2 separate regions of the Homo sapiens genome follow, and region 2 is linked to region 1. The links come from fine-mapping of genetic effects on gene expression. Tissue or cell type: fibroblasts. Region 1 holds a variant in brackets; the other region holds the start of a gene. All regions are shown on one strand. Distances are between the middles of the regions.

Region 1 (8,000 bases):
AATAAGAGCCTTGGAGTCTGCAGACCTCAGATCAAATTCCATCTCTACGAGTTAAACAAGGCTGTCTGAACTTAAGCAAGCATGTTAATTATAATAGTGGCTACTATTTGTTGAGATAGGCTAGCCAAGTGATTTAAATGCATAATTTCATTTAACACTTGGAATGACCTTAAAACTTTCAGAAGAGGACAAGGAGTGCCCAGAATTTGGAAGAGTAAGGACAAGCCTGGCACTGCCCCTTCCTGCCTGGGCATCTTTGGACAAACTATCTTACCTTCCATAAACCAGCTTTCTCACCTGGAAATGGGTCATAATTTCTCTTTCACAGAGATGCCGTGAGGATTAGAAATCACATATGGCCTCAGCTTGGGTCTTCAATAGTAGTTTATATCAATGTTATTTTTCCTAGTGAACCTTGACCCATGCCACACTGTTGGCTATGTGACAATGAATATAGAGAAAATAGAACTGCCTCCCACACACTATCTTGGGGTTTGTGAGTCTATACTTAGGACTCACCTTTTCCTTCCTGAGTTCAGAATCATTTGAGAGAGTCAGGAGGACAGATATAGAAATGTAGCTTTGTTACTGATTAGAGGCCAGCTTGGACGATGTGGCTTACATGCACAGCTATCATGGCTTCCTAATACTGAATCCCAGAATTCACTCAATTGCCTAGCTAGTCACGGGCAATGCTGGGCCACCTCAGGCTTCCCCACACAGAAACAGGGCCTTGGCTACCCAGCTCACTCTAGGCTGATATCACACCAGAGCAATGGCCTCCCCTGATTGGCCCATCACAAACAGGAAGAGGCTGGGCAAGTTTCTGGCCTTTAAACCAACCAATCAAATACACACCACTTCCTGCCCTGGGGTGTTGTTCTTTCCCAGGAAAACCAGAAGAGGAGCAAAGAAACATTCCTTCCCAACCCACTGGATGTCATGATATTTTCCAGGACTTCATAATGATTGAAAGATACTATTTTATTGATTTTTAAAGTATGGTCTAGTTTTTTTTTTTTTTTTGAGGGAGGATATAGAGGAAAATAATCCATTATTCTTGAGGCTCTATGTTTAATGAGAAAATGGGTCAAACCTCATGTACAACAACCCCCAGAGCATTTAACTATTGTTTAAAAATATTTTGTGAAATTTGAAAAATAAAAGCATTTATTTTTCTAGAATTTAAGACACGCTAAACTTTTTCTTTGTTTATTTGCTTTCTTTTTTCTTCTTCTTCTTCAGGATTTGGAGGAACTAGAAAAGGGACTTCAGGTCAAACTGTCAAACACAGAAATGTCGGGGGCTGGTGACTCTGAGTACATCACCCTGGCTGATGTGGAAAAGAAGGAGAGAGAATACTCTGAACAGCTAATCGATAATGTGCGTGCCAGACTTTCTTTCCTGTACACAAATTTTGGTTCCTAAAACAGTTAAATTGGCTACATTAGAGAGATGATAGTTAGAAGTGTGCCTAATACTTGAATTCCCCTATCGCATTCTGCCCTAGAGGCAGGATCCAGTTTCTGATGCTAAGTGATAGGGAAGAAGTAATTAAGCAGCAAAGATTCACAAAGGGAGGTTTATTTTTTATATCATGAATTATCCTCATTTAAATTTCAGATTGGTCTTTTTATCATTCAAAGCAAAGGTTGCTATAACCCTTGATGTCATCACTGCCCTTTGGAATAGAGTAGAAGAAAGCTGCTAGGCATCACTCGTGAAAGCAAGTTTTAAATTCCAGACAGAATGGCTTCTCTGAAACATCGTTTTTCTTTTCTTTTGGGTTCCACCACCCCCTGTTCATATATTATGTATTAAACAAACATGTCCTTGGCACTTGCTCTTCACCAGGGATTGTGCTGGGCACTGGGGACTCAAAAATCATTTAGACATGGCCCTGCCTGAGAGAGGCCAGGAGAGACAAACAGGTGAACAGATGAGGGCTTCACAGAGTGACACATCTTGTGATAGAAGGAAGCACAGGAGAAGGCCCGAGGCAGGCACAGTGGAGGGAAGAGTTCATTTTACCCCAGGCTTAGGAAAGCCTCCGTAGAAGAAGGGACCATGGAGAGGCTGGCCGGGAGAAGTGTGGGTGCTGGCCAGTGGTGGGGCAGAGATGGGAGCTAAAGAGGGCTGAGAGCAAGTCGAGGTAAGGTAAAGCCAGAGGGATCTGGCCAGAGGGCTTGTTTGTGTCTTAAGCCAGCGAGATGGGAGTGTCTATTGCCAGCGAGGTGGGAGTCACTGAAGCTTTGAAGCAGGGGGTGGCTGGCTTCAGCTTCTGCTTTAGAAGGGCTGCCCAGGCACTGAGTGGAGGGTGGTGAAGAGCTACTGGGCTAATCCAGCAGGAACTTTATTAAGGCAACTGCAGTAGGATGGAGAGGTGAGGAAACGTGTGAGAGAAGCTGTGGTGGTCTACCATGGGGCGGCAGGTGGGGAGGAGGAGGGGGTCCAGGGTCAGTGCTGCTGAAATAAGCGCCCCAGAGCAAGATGCTCATGGGAGGGAGGGAGCCAATGCTCCTGTCCTCTGAATAGGTCCAATATTGAGAGGAGAGGCTTGGAGATGGAGGGTCTCCATGAGAGCCCAGGTTAGAGGACTTTGAGGGCCAGAATGTTCTTAGAACTGTGGGCCAGGATGCTAAGGAAGAGGGCCAGCCTGGATTCCGGTGGTCCACAGAACCCCCAACGCTGTGTGCAGTATCTTGTCCATGTCTGCCTTTCTCAGGGACAGGGTTCAGAATTTTCATAAGATTCTCCAAAGTATTGGTGACCTCCAAAAATGGTGACCTCTGGCCTAGAAATGGTGTGTAAAATGGGAAGAGAAAAGAGCTTTGGTGCCAAATCCTGGATCCTGCCCATATTTAAGGAGGAGCGGATGAGAAGAATTGGGACAAGAAAGCAGAGGAGGAATTGGATGGGCTTTGCAGAAGCAGGAGAAAATCATGTCATGGACGCCAAGAGAATCAGGAGTTTGTAAGCAGAGCGGGCTGTGTAGAGTTGGCAGGTGACAGTCTGCAGTCACGTGGCAGGTGGAAGGCAGGTCATCTGATGGCTCCAAGGGGAAGAGCAGGGTGAGAGCCTGAGGGTGTCAGGCAGGTTTGAGGTCCCTCCTGGCAGGGATGAGAGGAGGAGCAGCATGTATGGGGTTTACTGGGAGGCAATGGGGCCCTGAGATGGGGAGCCGCATTGATGAGGGGTGTTCATCTGGGTGCAGGCTTCCTCCTGGCAGAGCCAGACCGACACCGCAGTTGAGGCTGACAGAGTTTCATGATCTTGAGTCACAGCAACAAAATCATGGGTTTCTGGTGACACTAACCCCTGCCCCCTCCCATGCCCAGTCCAGCCAGAAGTGTCCATTTCAGCCTCTCAGAGGCTGAGCCAAGATGGAGGCAACCTCAGCCGTGGAGTTAAATGGACCTGAACCAAATCCGGGCTTTCACTGGGTCCATGACCTCTGACAAGTGACCTAACTCCCCCGAGCCTGTTCCTACACCTCTAGATACATACTTTATCATGATATCAAATGTGTGAAGCACAGAGCCTGGCGAACAGCCTGTGGGCCATGAGGGAAAGTTGCTCCGATTCCTAGTGTCATTGTCCTTAGAGCTCTGACTGGCTGTGATGACTCAATTAAACCTCCTGCATTCTAAGCCACTTGGGAATTCCCAGCTCTGCTCCTGATAAAATGAGGGGGAGGGAAGATTTTAAAGCAAAATGTTTTCATGGTCAGCATCCTCTCTGCCATATTAAGCTTTTGTACTTTTAGGACAATAACTAATATTTAAACATCTGTTTATGCTTTTACTTCCAGGAAGTATTTAATCCCATTTAAAATTGCCAAAGCTTCCATGAGCACATTGTCACATTTCATCGGCCCCTAGGTAGCTGTAATGACCTGTGCAAGAGTCTGTAGGCTGGACAAGCTACTGCTTTCTTTCCTTAGCAGCAGTGCTCTCGTGTCTGCTGAAACACCATTGCAAAACTGACTGACACTGGAACCAGACAATGGAACCAGAAAGAACTTCACTGTAGAACGTGATTGTTGCCAAGATAAACTCACTGAAACTGTAGAATTGTTTAGAATCTTTGTTTGTGATAGGGAGTGAATTGTAATTCCCGAGCACGCACCGTTTGGCTTTCTTAAGTAAGTTTTTCACCTCACTTCTTGCTGCTTGTGCTCATTTCACAGATGGAAGCTTTCTGGAAACAGATGGCAAATATCCAGCACTTTCTTGTGGACCAGTTTAAGTGTTCCAGCTCCAAAGCCCGACAGCT[G/C]ATGATGACTCTGACGGAAAGAATGATTGCAGCCGAAGGGCTATTGTGCGATTCTCAGGAGCTGCAGGCTCTGGTAATGCTGGAGGGGGCGGGAGGGAACATAAAGATATTCAGACTAGAGATATGGAATCCTGAGGCTTGACATCCTTAAATCTAACAGATTCATGTTGTAGCTGGTTATATAGAGCCTCAGGGAAAAAAAAACCAACAACAACAGTAAATTCATTCATCCATTTATTTATTTATCCATCCATCCACCCATCCATCCACCCATTGACCCTTCCATCCATCCATCCATCTACCCATCCATCCATCTGCCCTCCCACCCATTTATCCATCCATCCATCCACCCATCCATCCATCCATCCACCCATCCATCCACCCACCCATCCATCCATCTGCCCTCCCACCCATTTATCCATCCATCCATCCCTCCATCCATCCATCCACCCACCCATCCATCCACCCGTCCACCCATCCACCCACCCACCCATCCACCCATCAATCCACCCATCCATCCATTTACTCATCCATCCATCCATCCACCCATCCATCCATCCATCCATCCATCCGTCTATCCAATGAGTGAAGGCTCTGGCCAGCTCAGTATTACTGGAGCATAGAACACTGGTCCTAAACCTGAAATTACACATTGAAATTATCTGGGAGCTTTAAAAAGTACTGATTCTTGGGCCCCAGATGGGTCTCCATCCCAGAGTTTCTGACTTAATCAGATTGGGGTGCAACCTGGCTGGGCATTGGGGTTTTTAGAGCTCCCCAATGACGATGGTGGGAGCTGGGGTTGACGCCCACTGGTGTAGACAGAGCATTGATTGACTTTCCTGATTGCCCTGTTTTGCCTGCAGAGTTCTTTAACAATGCCTTTTCCTGGCCTTCACTCTGAGGTTCTAATATGATTGGTCTGGAGTGGAGGCCCTGGCATTGTGGGTTTTAAAACTCCCTGAACTATTCTGACGGGAGGCCAGGGATACAAACCCCTGGTGCATGGGTGTCCAACCTTTTGGCTTCCCTGGGCCACATTGGAAGAAGAAGAATTGTCTTAGGCCACACATAAAATACATTAACACTAACGATAGCTGATGAGCGGAAAAAAAAAAAAAAAAAAAGGTCCCTCCTTATTTTTGTGAAGCCTGCCAACCACAGATAAGCAAAAAAGTCCTCACATTCAAAGGGTTGGACACCCGTGGGAGAGAAATCTGCGAATCCAGCTTTGACTCTGGGCTCTGTTGTTTGGAGCTGTGTGATCTTGAACACATTACTTAACCTCTCTGCGCGTCTGTTCCTCTATTTATAAAATAATAGTGCTAAGAGTTGCCACAGACAGGGCCTGGCTAGATGCTGAGTGACTCCTAACACCCCAGTCACCATTGGGTTCCTCTTGGTACACATTGGGCTCATCCTGTGTGCGCCAGTGTGTACTAGGGCCAGGGAACGAGCCCTCTGATGCTGCCCTGCACCCATTTCCCCGTCCTGTGCACCAGCCCGTGTGGCAGCTCGGCTCAGAACCCTGCAGTGGCCACCCTGCCCTCAGCACAGACTCAGCTCCTCAGACCCGTGGGAAAGCCAAGCCTCAACGGATCTTTGCCTCCCCTTGCACACCACATGCCTCTCCCAATCCGCTCTGCTCCTCCAGGTGTGATCCACAGACCACAGCATCGGCAACACTGGGAGCTGGTTAGAGTGCAGAATCCTGTCCTCCACCCTTCCCAAGCAGGATCTGCACTTTAACAAGACCCCCACATCCACACAGTTGTTTGAGAACTTCATGTGCTTTTTCTCGGTATATACACACATGGCCTTTTTTTTCTGTCAACACTGCCGAAAGATAGGTATGGAAGATATTTTATTCACAGCACGCAGATAAGGAGCCCACTCAGTGATCCACCTAAGATCCCCGTCCTCTCTAATGACATCGCTGAGCCTGGGCCTGAAGCTTCCTGGTTTGCTGCCCAAGCCCCTTTGAATTGGATTTCAGTTTGATAAGGCTGCTGACTCATTAATGCTCTGCAAAGGTGAAAGACTTTTCTTCCTATATTTTTTTCTTTTGCTATCAGCAGGATATTGATGCAGAAAAAAGAAAATACATCCTTAGCTGACTCTGGCCAGAGTATCAGCCAATAACTTCCAAATAGGAAGAAGGAAAGGGATCCTCCAGTTTAACAGCATGACTGTCCTTCAGCCAATGTTTAATGAGCACCTACTGTGTAGCACATGCTGTTCATGGAAACCATATTGCAGAGGTTAGGAATGCAGGCTCAGGGAAGAAACTGGAGCTCCCACTGCAGTCTTGCCACTCGTTAGCTGTGTGATCTTGGGCAGATAATTTAACCTCTCTGTGATTTGGTTTCATTTTCTGTGAAATGGGGGCTATGATAGCACCTGCTCTCTCACAGGGTAGTTGAGGGTGTTAAAGACTTGGCAGTATGTAAAGTTTTTAGAGCAGAGCCCGGCACGTAGGAAGCATTCAGTACTTGTTAGTCATTAGAGTCCTGCAGGCCACATGTCAGCAGGAGAAATAGACAGCAAAAAATTACTGTAATGATGCATGGACAGGGCTACACAGTCTATGTTTGTATAGAAGAGGGATGGATTCACTATGCCTGCATACCGGGCACCAAAGGGAAAAAAGATGGCTTCCGTATCTCAGAACACAGAAGAGTTGGAATTCCCAGGGCGGCATCCCATCTTTCTGGCCTGGGCATTTGGAGCTGAAATGTGCATCTGTAAATATTAAAACTGGAAGAGCCCTTCAAAGGGACCCTGACGGTCATCAGATTCAGTTTCTTGAGACTCACAGGAAAAAAAACAGCTGCCAAGACAGATGGGACTGGCTGTAGATAATGGTGAAAACAGCTGACACTCAGGGAGGCTCACTGTTCCCTGGCCGTTGTTCTCAATGCTTCACGTATTTTGACTTACTTAATCCTCATGTCAAATCTGTGTGGCAAGGGTCAGGTGAGGAGCTTGTGCTCAGGTCCTGGGAGCCAAGTCTGAGCCTGGCACTGTTGACTCAGCCACACTCAGAGCACATCAGGGCCCCCTTCCCCCATTCCACATCCCTCTTCTCACGCCACTCTCTCCACTTCCATCCTCCCTCCAATATAAGCACATCGATTGCACCACCACTGCCGAATCCAGCCAGCCTGTGTTGGGTTCTCAACATGCTCTTTAGAGGTGGCCAGAGCCGCCCTTCCCGCGGCCCACCTGGCACCTCCGCTTATCCTCTTGCACCCTCTAGGGTTCACGGGCTGCTGGAATGAGCCTCGCCGTCCTTGTCCATCGCTGGGGGATGTTCTTGCCCTAGTCTTGTGTTGTGGGAACAGAGGCCAGTGCAGCTCAGCGCACAGTGTGGCCATGGCTGGTCAAGGGGACGTGGGCGACTCAGGCCTGGCCCCTGTCTTCAAGGGCTCTCAGTCCAGGCTGGGACTGCCCCTCACAATCACCTCCTCGAAGACAGGAGCCCTGGGGCAGTGGAGAACAGAGTAGGGGACCAGTGAGGGTGGGGACAAGCAGGGAAGGACCACAGAACCCATGAGGACATAGAAGGACCTGGCTGGGCAGGGGAGTGAGAGGAGGCAGTGAGGGTGTTCCAGGAGGAAGGCCCCGCATGTGCAGAGGCTGGGCAGCCGGGACCAGGCAGGTGTGCAGGACAGGGCCCCACAGAACTTCCTGCACCATGCCTGGGGTGCTGGACTTGATCTCAG
Region 2 (8,108 bases), 140 kb after region 1:
CCGCGCGTCTGGAGGCCTCCCCGGAACATCTGCGGGGGTGTGGGGGGAGGGAGTGTGGGACGGGGGCCAAGGATCGGCCCAAGCTGCTGGGAACGTTCTTGTCCCTCCAGGATCGCGCCCAAGGACCGCTCCCCTCTTGCCTCTCCTTCCATAGCCTCCGTTTATCCTTCCCGAGTGCCTCTCCCTGAATGCACCAAGCACTTTTTCCATCTCGGACCCCAAGCCTTTATTCACGCTGTACCCTCTCCCTGAATAGTCTACCCCAGACAAAAGCCTGTCCACTCCCCTAGACCCATCTCCAATGCCTTCCCCACCACGAAGCCTCTCCCTGCCACCCTCTCCATCCTAGCATTGAACCAGCCCTCCCTGGGGGCCTCTAAGGTGGAGCCCCCTAACTGGCAGAGGGAACAGCAGGGACAGAAGGGTACGGCCTTAATTAATGCTGACCTGTTCTACTCCAACAGCAGCTCCCTCATCACACAGCAGCCTGACACTGGGGCCACCAGGTCACCCCACAGAATTGCCTCCAAGACAGCAGGTGTTTGGAGGGCTGGGCCACTGGCACCAAGGTCTCCACAGCCCTGGGGACAAGCTGGGGGTCAGGAGGAGGACTAGGGTGCTCCTGCCTCCCAGCACTGTGGACACCAGCCCCGGAGTCCATGATCCAGATGTTGCTCCAGAGGGAGGTGGGCAGGAAGCCAGGTCACAGCTTGACAAGGTCCGTAACAGCAGAGGGGAAAAGATGAAAGAAGATGGAGGAAAAGGGGGAGCCCCAGCAAGCCCCAACCTCACTGGACAGGTGCCCCAAGTTCCCAGGCAGAATAAAACACCAACCTTGTCCACCACTTCGTTGTTCATTTTCTGCATGCGAAATCCAACCCCACAGGTCCTATGAAACTACTCATCTTTTCTGCTTTCAAGTTGCCATCCAGAGCGAGGGTGGCCTAGGCTTGGTACAGCTCCCCCAGCACTGTGGTTGGGGGCTGGGGCCCTGACCTTCACCACCCCAGGGGCCAGTCCCCTAATCCAGGGCAGGAGGCCAGAGACACCTGGGCCTTAAAATAGAGGTGAGGTTTTAGCTTCACAGAGAAGCCAGCTCAGTATCCCAGGAACACTAGGCATAATTTTCCCATTTTACAGACAGGAAATTGAGGCTTACAGAGGTAAAATGATGTACCCCGGGTGCAAAACATATTAGCTGCAGCAAAGCAGCATGGAGATGCCAGGTTCCCCTACACTCTGTTTACAACTCATTTCCCTCCACGCATTCATGCATCCCTGGCTCTCAGCGGGGCCTAAAATCCCTGTCAATGACCGGAAATTGCAGATGGGGACACTGTCCCTCCCCAACTCCTACACTCCCTTCCTTGGAGTTGTTAAGTCCTAGGTTCCCCGTACCAGGGCGTTCCCTGGGGTCAGTCTGGAGATCTGAGCAGAAAGCCCCTACAGCAAGGGACAAGACCACGTGCGTATCAGGGGGAGGAGCATCCGCCTGCCACTGGCCAAACAGATCGCTGCTCCCAAGCAGATTTCGCCGGTACAAAGCGCCGCAGCCGCTCAGCCTCCGGCAGCGGCAATCCTTGCGCCTGCGCCGCAGAAACCCCTCCTGCAGCCCAGGGAGAAGCCTGGTGGGCGGGGGGGGAAGGGCCGGGGCACCCGTTGCGAAGCCCTGGAGCGGTGAGGCCCGCCCCGGAACCCGAGCCCACTGTAACCCAAGCCTCAAGGCCGCTCTGCCGGCAGAAAGTAAAACCCTCCCTCCGTGGAGATCGCGAGCCCCTGAGTTCCACAGTCGCGAAGCTCGAGTGCTTTCGGAGCCCCGGGAGCGCCAGAGGCGCTGCCTTTTGTCCGGTGCCTGAGAAGCCATGGAGAAAGGCAGAGGGGACCACAGGGAGAAGAGGAAGGAGTAGGGGAGAGGAACGGGAGAGGTGAAGCGACCAGCGTCCCCAAGGGTCAGGGCGCAGCTGCGGGGCTGGCCCAGGCTGCGCCCTGGGGGAGATGCTGGCGTTGGTGACATTGACCGCAGTTCCAGAGGAACTCTCCTTGGGACAGCTACGGGCCGTGCACAAAGCGCCCTCGCCTCCCTAGTACTCCACCACGCTTTGAGGAAGGCCGGAAGAAGACGGCCACCCCCATCTGACAGATGGAGAAGCTGAGGCCCAAGAGAGCAAAGCGCCTTGGCTGGAAACCCGGATTCCCTGGTGCTGGTCCCGCTTCTCGGCCCGCGGCCCAGAAGCCTCCCCATCGGGCTCGGGAGTTTGGATCCCAAGAGAGGTCGGACCACCAGGGAAGGTAGTGGACAGGGGGAGATACAGAAGGGGTGGGGGAAGAGGAAGCTGGACTCTCGCACCATCTCCCTTTCTGATCACCCCACCACCACACACACATACACACACACACACACACACACACACACACACACACACCCTTGCTGTTGGACCTCTCCCTCGCGAGGCTCCGGCTTCAGGACCACGGAGAGCTCTGGAGCAACAGCCCGCCCGCGAAGGGATGGGGCCCGAAGAGGCCCACCACCGTGTTTACCAGTTCCCTGCTCCTATTCCTCCAGGAAGCCCTCCCAGATATCTGCCCCGATCAAGCTCTGCTTCCCTCCAGGCTCACTTTGGGTCACTCATAGCATTTAAGAGGGGAAGGTTTAATTAAAATGATAATGATTGTAATAAAAGTCAACAACAAACATTTATTGAATGCTCACTACCGACCGGCATTAACTGATTTAATTCTCACAATGAATCCGTCGCTCACCCTAGCCTGGGAACTTCTGGAGGGTGGGGCCAGGTTGCTGAGCCAGGGACCTAGCGCCTACCCTGGGCCTGGCACCTAGCAGTTCTCCGGCATCCAGGTCTGGACCAATTCGAAAGCTCCCCAGCCCTCGGATGCTCCAACTTCCGTTTTTCTGGCACCTGACCCTGGCTCTCGTCGGTCCATCCAAAGGCTACGCCGTCCATCCGCCCTTCTTCCCCCAGTTTCCTGGTGACCCCCAGCTCAAGAGAGAATACCCGCAGGGCCCAAGCCCTAGCGTTCCCTCTCCCTGATCCTCCCGGCCCCATGCTCAGGTCCGGGAGGCCAGAGACCCCAGTTCAAATCCCAGCTCTACCTCCACCTTGCTCTGTGAAGCAGGCACATCGGTGTGTGCTGTGGAGCTCAGGAGTGCCCCTTGAATCTACTGGCGCTTGAGGGTAGGGGTTTACGGCTCCAACTGCCCGACGAACTAAATCCTTAACCAAATCCTTCCCCCCAGCAAGCATGAGGGGAGCGCTCGGAAAAAAAGCTCCTTCCAGCTTTAAGCTGTGTGGCCGCAGGCGACTCGCGGAACCTCTCCCGGGGCCCGGCACACAGTAGGTGCTCTATAATTACTACCGACTGAGTGGATGGATGAATGGACCAACACGGAACGGAGCTCCAGTTCTTTTCACAAAACAGAATGAGGGGCCTGGGTTAGATTCATCCCAGAGGTTCCTTCGCGTTTAAGCGTCCATGCGGTAGCTTTAGCCAACTTCCCCTCTCAGAACCTCTCTCCCTTTCTGTAGAAGAGGAGCCGGGACTGGACCCGGGCGATCCCTTCCGAGTCTCACGGACCACGCCGGCCAGCCCCGACCGAGTCGCCCCAGCTCTGGGAACCTCTTGCATGATGAGGTGGGGGAGGGGCCGCGCCGTGGCTCTCCCCAGCCTGGCGGCCGCTGCCCCAACACCGGGGCCCGGGCATGGCCCTCGGGCGCCCCATGCCCTGGGTCCTCCCGGGGCCCGCCCCCCTCGTCTGGCCCGCGCGCGCCCCGAGGGTACCTGGCCATTGTCCCGGCCGAGGGGCAGGTCGCGGGGCGCGGGGCGGCGGATGCGCAGCGTCGGCGGCCGCTCGTCGCGCTCTCCGGGAGAGCTGACCGCGGAGCCCGAGGGCTCGCTCACGTCGCTGGCCGTGTCCTCGCTGCCTCCCGGCCCTGGCAGCCCGACCGCGTCGGGCCGGCCAGCGCTGCGCGGCGTGCGCGCCGAGCCGCGGCGGCCCACACTGTAGGCGTCGAAGTCGATGGTCTTGTTCTCGTAGGCGCCCTCCACCGCGGCGAACATGCCGCCGTACTTCTGGCGCGGGGTCTGCGCCGCGCTGCCCGGCCGCGCCAGGTACACGGGCAGGTCGTCCTCGGTGTTCCACGCGCGCCGCCGGTCCGCCATACCCGTCCAAGGCCGGCCACCCACCGCGCTCCCGCCTGCCCGCCCGCGGCCCTGGGCACCGCCGTGCGCCGCGCTCCGCGCCTCGGTGCGGGCCTGCGGCGGCCCGGGCGCGACTGCGGCCCAGGGAGGGGAGGGGCGGGGCGTGGCGCGCGCCGGGGCGGGGCCGGGGCGGGGCCTCTGGGCGGCTGCGGGCTAGCGGCGCGGCCAGCTACAAAGGACCAGGAGGCGGGGATCGCGGCTGGGGCGGGGAGGGACGGTGACGCTCCCGAGCCGCAGCGCGGAGGGCGGGCCGCGGCACCGCAGTGCCCTCGCCGCACCCCCCACTCTCCGCCCCCAGGCGGAGCGCAGGGCGCGAGGAGAGCGCGGGGCAGGAGCCGTGTGCGTACACTCGCGCGCCCACACGCTCTGGAGGCACACGCGGGTTCATACCTGCACACCAGACAATTACGCCAAACACATGAGAGATGCACAGACATGCTGGCACACACACGAGAGTCAATCACACATGCTCTCCAGAGATACACAGGGGCTCGATCATGCACACCATACTCAATGTTGCACACACATACACATATATGCTTGTGCACATTCCGAGTTCATTACAAACACACAACAGAAATCCTCATTGTCTCACAACCCCACTCACACACAGTATCACACCAAGATTAATTGCACAACTGGAGAGGCACATGCGTTGGACACACCGTTCATTCCGTCAGTTTTATTTTGCTGAGCGCCCACTAGTGCCTAGCACTGTTGTAGGAGCTGGGAACAGAGCCATGGACAAAAGAGACCAAGTGCCTGCCCTCCAGGAGCTGACCTGCTAAGGAGGGGAATTGGATACAAAAGCACCCATATGGTGGGCCAAGAGGTGGTAAGGGCCAGGAAAGGTGGTGCAGCAGCCAAGAGGGACATGCTAGAGGCACACTCCGACAGACACATAAGAGAAGCACATTCTTGCATGAGAATCAGCGACACACACATACACGTGCACGCCAATGACACCACACAACACACCAATATCAAAGGCAAGCTCAGGGCGATTCCACACATGTGCATCATAAACTGGCAACAGGATGCCCACACACAAGTCCACACCAGTAATAAAGGAAGTCAAAAGCTTAAATAAAAACGCTCCAGAGAAAGACACACAGAGACAGAGATGACCACACACACACAGCTGGCAGTCAACCAGACAGACAGATATTCCCTCATTCGAGGGGCACAGTCCACTTTTGTTGCTCCTGGAGCTTGCAGTCTGGGCGTTCTGGGGTTTCTCTGTCGTGGAGGTCGCTCTGCTGGGGCTCTCCTCTAAGGCCAGGCACCACCTGCCTCCTATAGACACCTTCCCTTATTTCTCCACGATTATCAGGCAGAGGATCCTGCAAGTCCCTGGGGACCCTACAGTCCCAGCTGCACTTCCTGGAGAGGCAGAATCGCCAGCTGCCGACCCCCTCCTCGAGCCAGTCTAGACAAGCAAAGTCAGGACTGGGTGGGGACTGCAGAGGGGAGCATCAGTGCTTCTTGCAATGTCCCCCCACCCATAGCCTTCCATGCTGGGAGCTGTCCCTTCAACCCCGGGCCCTGCCAGCTGCAAGCCAGAGCTCCCGCAGCGTGACCAAGCTCCAGGAATACCAGACAGACAGATGGATTCATGTTCTTGTTTTATGACTCTTGGGCCCCATGGACTGAGGATCCTGGGGCCGTCGGATCCGTGGCCTCAGCTGACACCTCCCTGAAGCTACTGTCTTTCAACCCTGCAACAAGGGGTCTGTGCAGCAGGTAGGTATTTTTACCGGCCCCCTCTTGGAAGAGGAAACAGGAGGGGAGATGTGAAATGGCTCCCTCAGGGCCTCAATCTCAAGGAGGTTCAGCCAGGCCTAGAGCGTGGGCTCATCCACTCGGTGGGCATTTAGCAAGTTATTTTTCTGTGCTTGAGAGAGAGGCTAGTGTGGGGACACAGATGAGTATTTCTAAGTCTCTGTCTTCAACAAGTGTTTACTCTCATGGGGGAGAGAGTGCTGAATGCGAGAACAGAAAGTTCCACACACAGCCTCCATCTACCTTCCACCCACCGCAGCTGCATCCTGGCTCCTCTCTCCTTGTGTCCCTGGGTCCACTGTGCAGATTTGCCACAGACACTCCTCTTGAGGCCCATCAGCCTCCAGGCTATCTTGCAAGTGTTTTCGATTTTTCAATGAAAATTTTTCTCTGTCCTGTGAAATACTATTCCCAGCCCATTCCAGGCAAGAACAATTCATGTCGAAAACCACATAGAAATTTCTTCTAAAACCCCACAAATGTTCAGGGTGACATAACCCAGAGAAATATCAGAAAACTCAAAAGTCTGAGTTAGGTGGAACTTTGGAGGCCAGGCCTCCTACTGCATGCTTGAATCTGCTCTCAACATCTTGAGGACACAGTCTCTCAGGCTTTGTTGGTGGTGATGGAAATCTTACTGCTTCTAAAGAAAACCCTTTCCATTGTGAGAAAGGGCTGGGCAGTTGCCAAGACTAGAGGGAGTGACGCAAGGAAGGAGCTGAGAAAGTGCTGTCTTTATGCAGAAGCAGGAAAGGATCTTCATAGCTTCTGCTTATAGAAAGTTTACTACGTGCCCGGACCATGGTAAGCACCTAACAGATAGTAACTCTTTTATGCCTCGCAGCAACCTTGAAACTGCCATTTTAGCCTCATTTTACAGATGAGAAAACTGAGGTTCAGAGACATAAATAACCTGTCCAGGGTCACAGCTGGCAAGTAAGACTTCGAGGTTTAAACAGAGTAGTCTGGTGCCAGAGTCCACATCGAAACAACTACCCTTTCCTCTCCCCAAGAGCCTGACTGAGGTGGTCCCACTGGGAGATAAGAGATAAAGGGACCTAGTTTAGGCAGAAGAGTCTAGGTGGTTGAGTTAGAATCCTGTTTTGCATGCAGTCTTGGGCAACTAATCATTCGACATTCATCTAACACACCTTTGTGGCGCCCACTGCGTGTCACTGACTTTATATCACTTCCTCTCACTCTTTTCTCCCCATGCAGAGGAGGCGATCGGACCCTCCTGAAACTGCATACTGTGTATAAGGGTCCTTGCACACACAGTTCATTTCCGTGCATCATGCTCTGCCTTATACACTGCTGGCTCCCTCAGGCAGCCCCACGTGGCGAACCAGGCCACTTCCATCTTCAGGCTGGAGCGCTGAGGATGACAAACCTTAAGCCCATTGCTCAGGTTAACCACCGGGAAGTGACTAACCTGGGATTTCAACTCAGGTTTGTCTGAGTTTTTTCCACACCATCTCATCTCAAGGTCAGTAACCCAAGCGCAACAGAGAAAGGGAGGAAGGAAACAAAACCCAGGGTATAAAGTTGGAAATGCACCCTCCAGCTTGCACGGAGACAGAAAGGAGCAATATTTGCCAGGGACCAACAGAGGCAGCAGGGGAAGCCTGAGATAACTGCCCCCATCCTGACGACAGCTGTGACCTCCCCCATCCCCCAACCCATCCTCCAACTGCTCCTAGTCCTCCTGGGAAGGAGTTCTTATAAGTGAATTACAGCACTACATTTGGTGAAGGACAAACCTTGAGCTCATCATGTCAGACATGAAACCTTCTTCCTGGGTGATGGCAGAGAACAGAAAGGGACACGTCAGATGGGAGAGGACAAGAGGCCAGTTCAGGTCCGATGTGGATTTTGTTTCGGCAAACCAAAAAAAAAAAAAAAATTCGTTCATTCATTGCAAAAAGAATGTTTTCAAAAAATGAAGGAAAGGGGATTGTAGTTTATCATCAGGTATATAGTAATGGATTATTGTCCTCATCTCAGATATAAGAAAAGATGTTCAGAGAAGTTAAACAAGTAAACATGTTCGGTTACATGGCCAGCAAGTGACAGAGATGCAGTTCAAATCCAGGCTCATTTGATTTTTA

Which allele goes with the higher level. Alleles are on the strand shown, and positions count from the first base shown. SD is a standard deviation of normalised expression in the study named.
For the expression in fibroblasts of the gene that starts at base 4,296 in region 2, G is the low allele of the variant in region 1 and C is the other (moderate effect, 0.52 SD a copy in GTEx).

What was found. PIP is the estimated chance that this variant, and not a neighbour inherited with it, causes the effect.
Region 2: CRMP1 starts here. The variant in region 1 is fine-mapped to the expression of CRMP1 in fibroblasts (GTEx, PIP above 0.99).

The regions. Positions count from the first base shown.
Region 1 is chr4:5,743,959-5,751,958 of GRCh38, forward strand. EVC (EvC ciliary complex subunit 1) reads left to right here. Exons shown (of 21, transcript NM_153717.3): 7 at 1,246-1,383; 8 at 4,190-4,348. Among named protein-coding and RNA genes, the nearest start is that of EVC, 37 kb to the left of the region's middle. The variant G/C (reference allele first, on the strand shown) is at 4,276.
Region 2 is chr4:5,888,791-5,896,898 of GRCh38, forward strand. It overlaps CRMP1 (collapsin response mediator protein 1), which reads right to left and starts at 4,296. Exons shown (of 14, transcript NM_001014809.3): 1 at 3,799-4,296. The coding sequence starts at 4,179. RefSeq lists enhancers at 1,413-2,157, 2,158-2,901.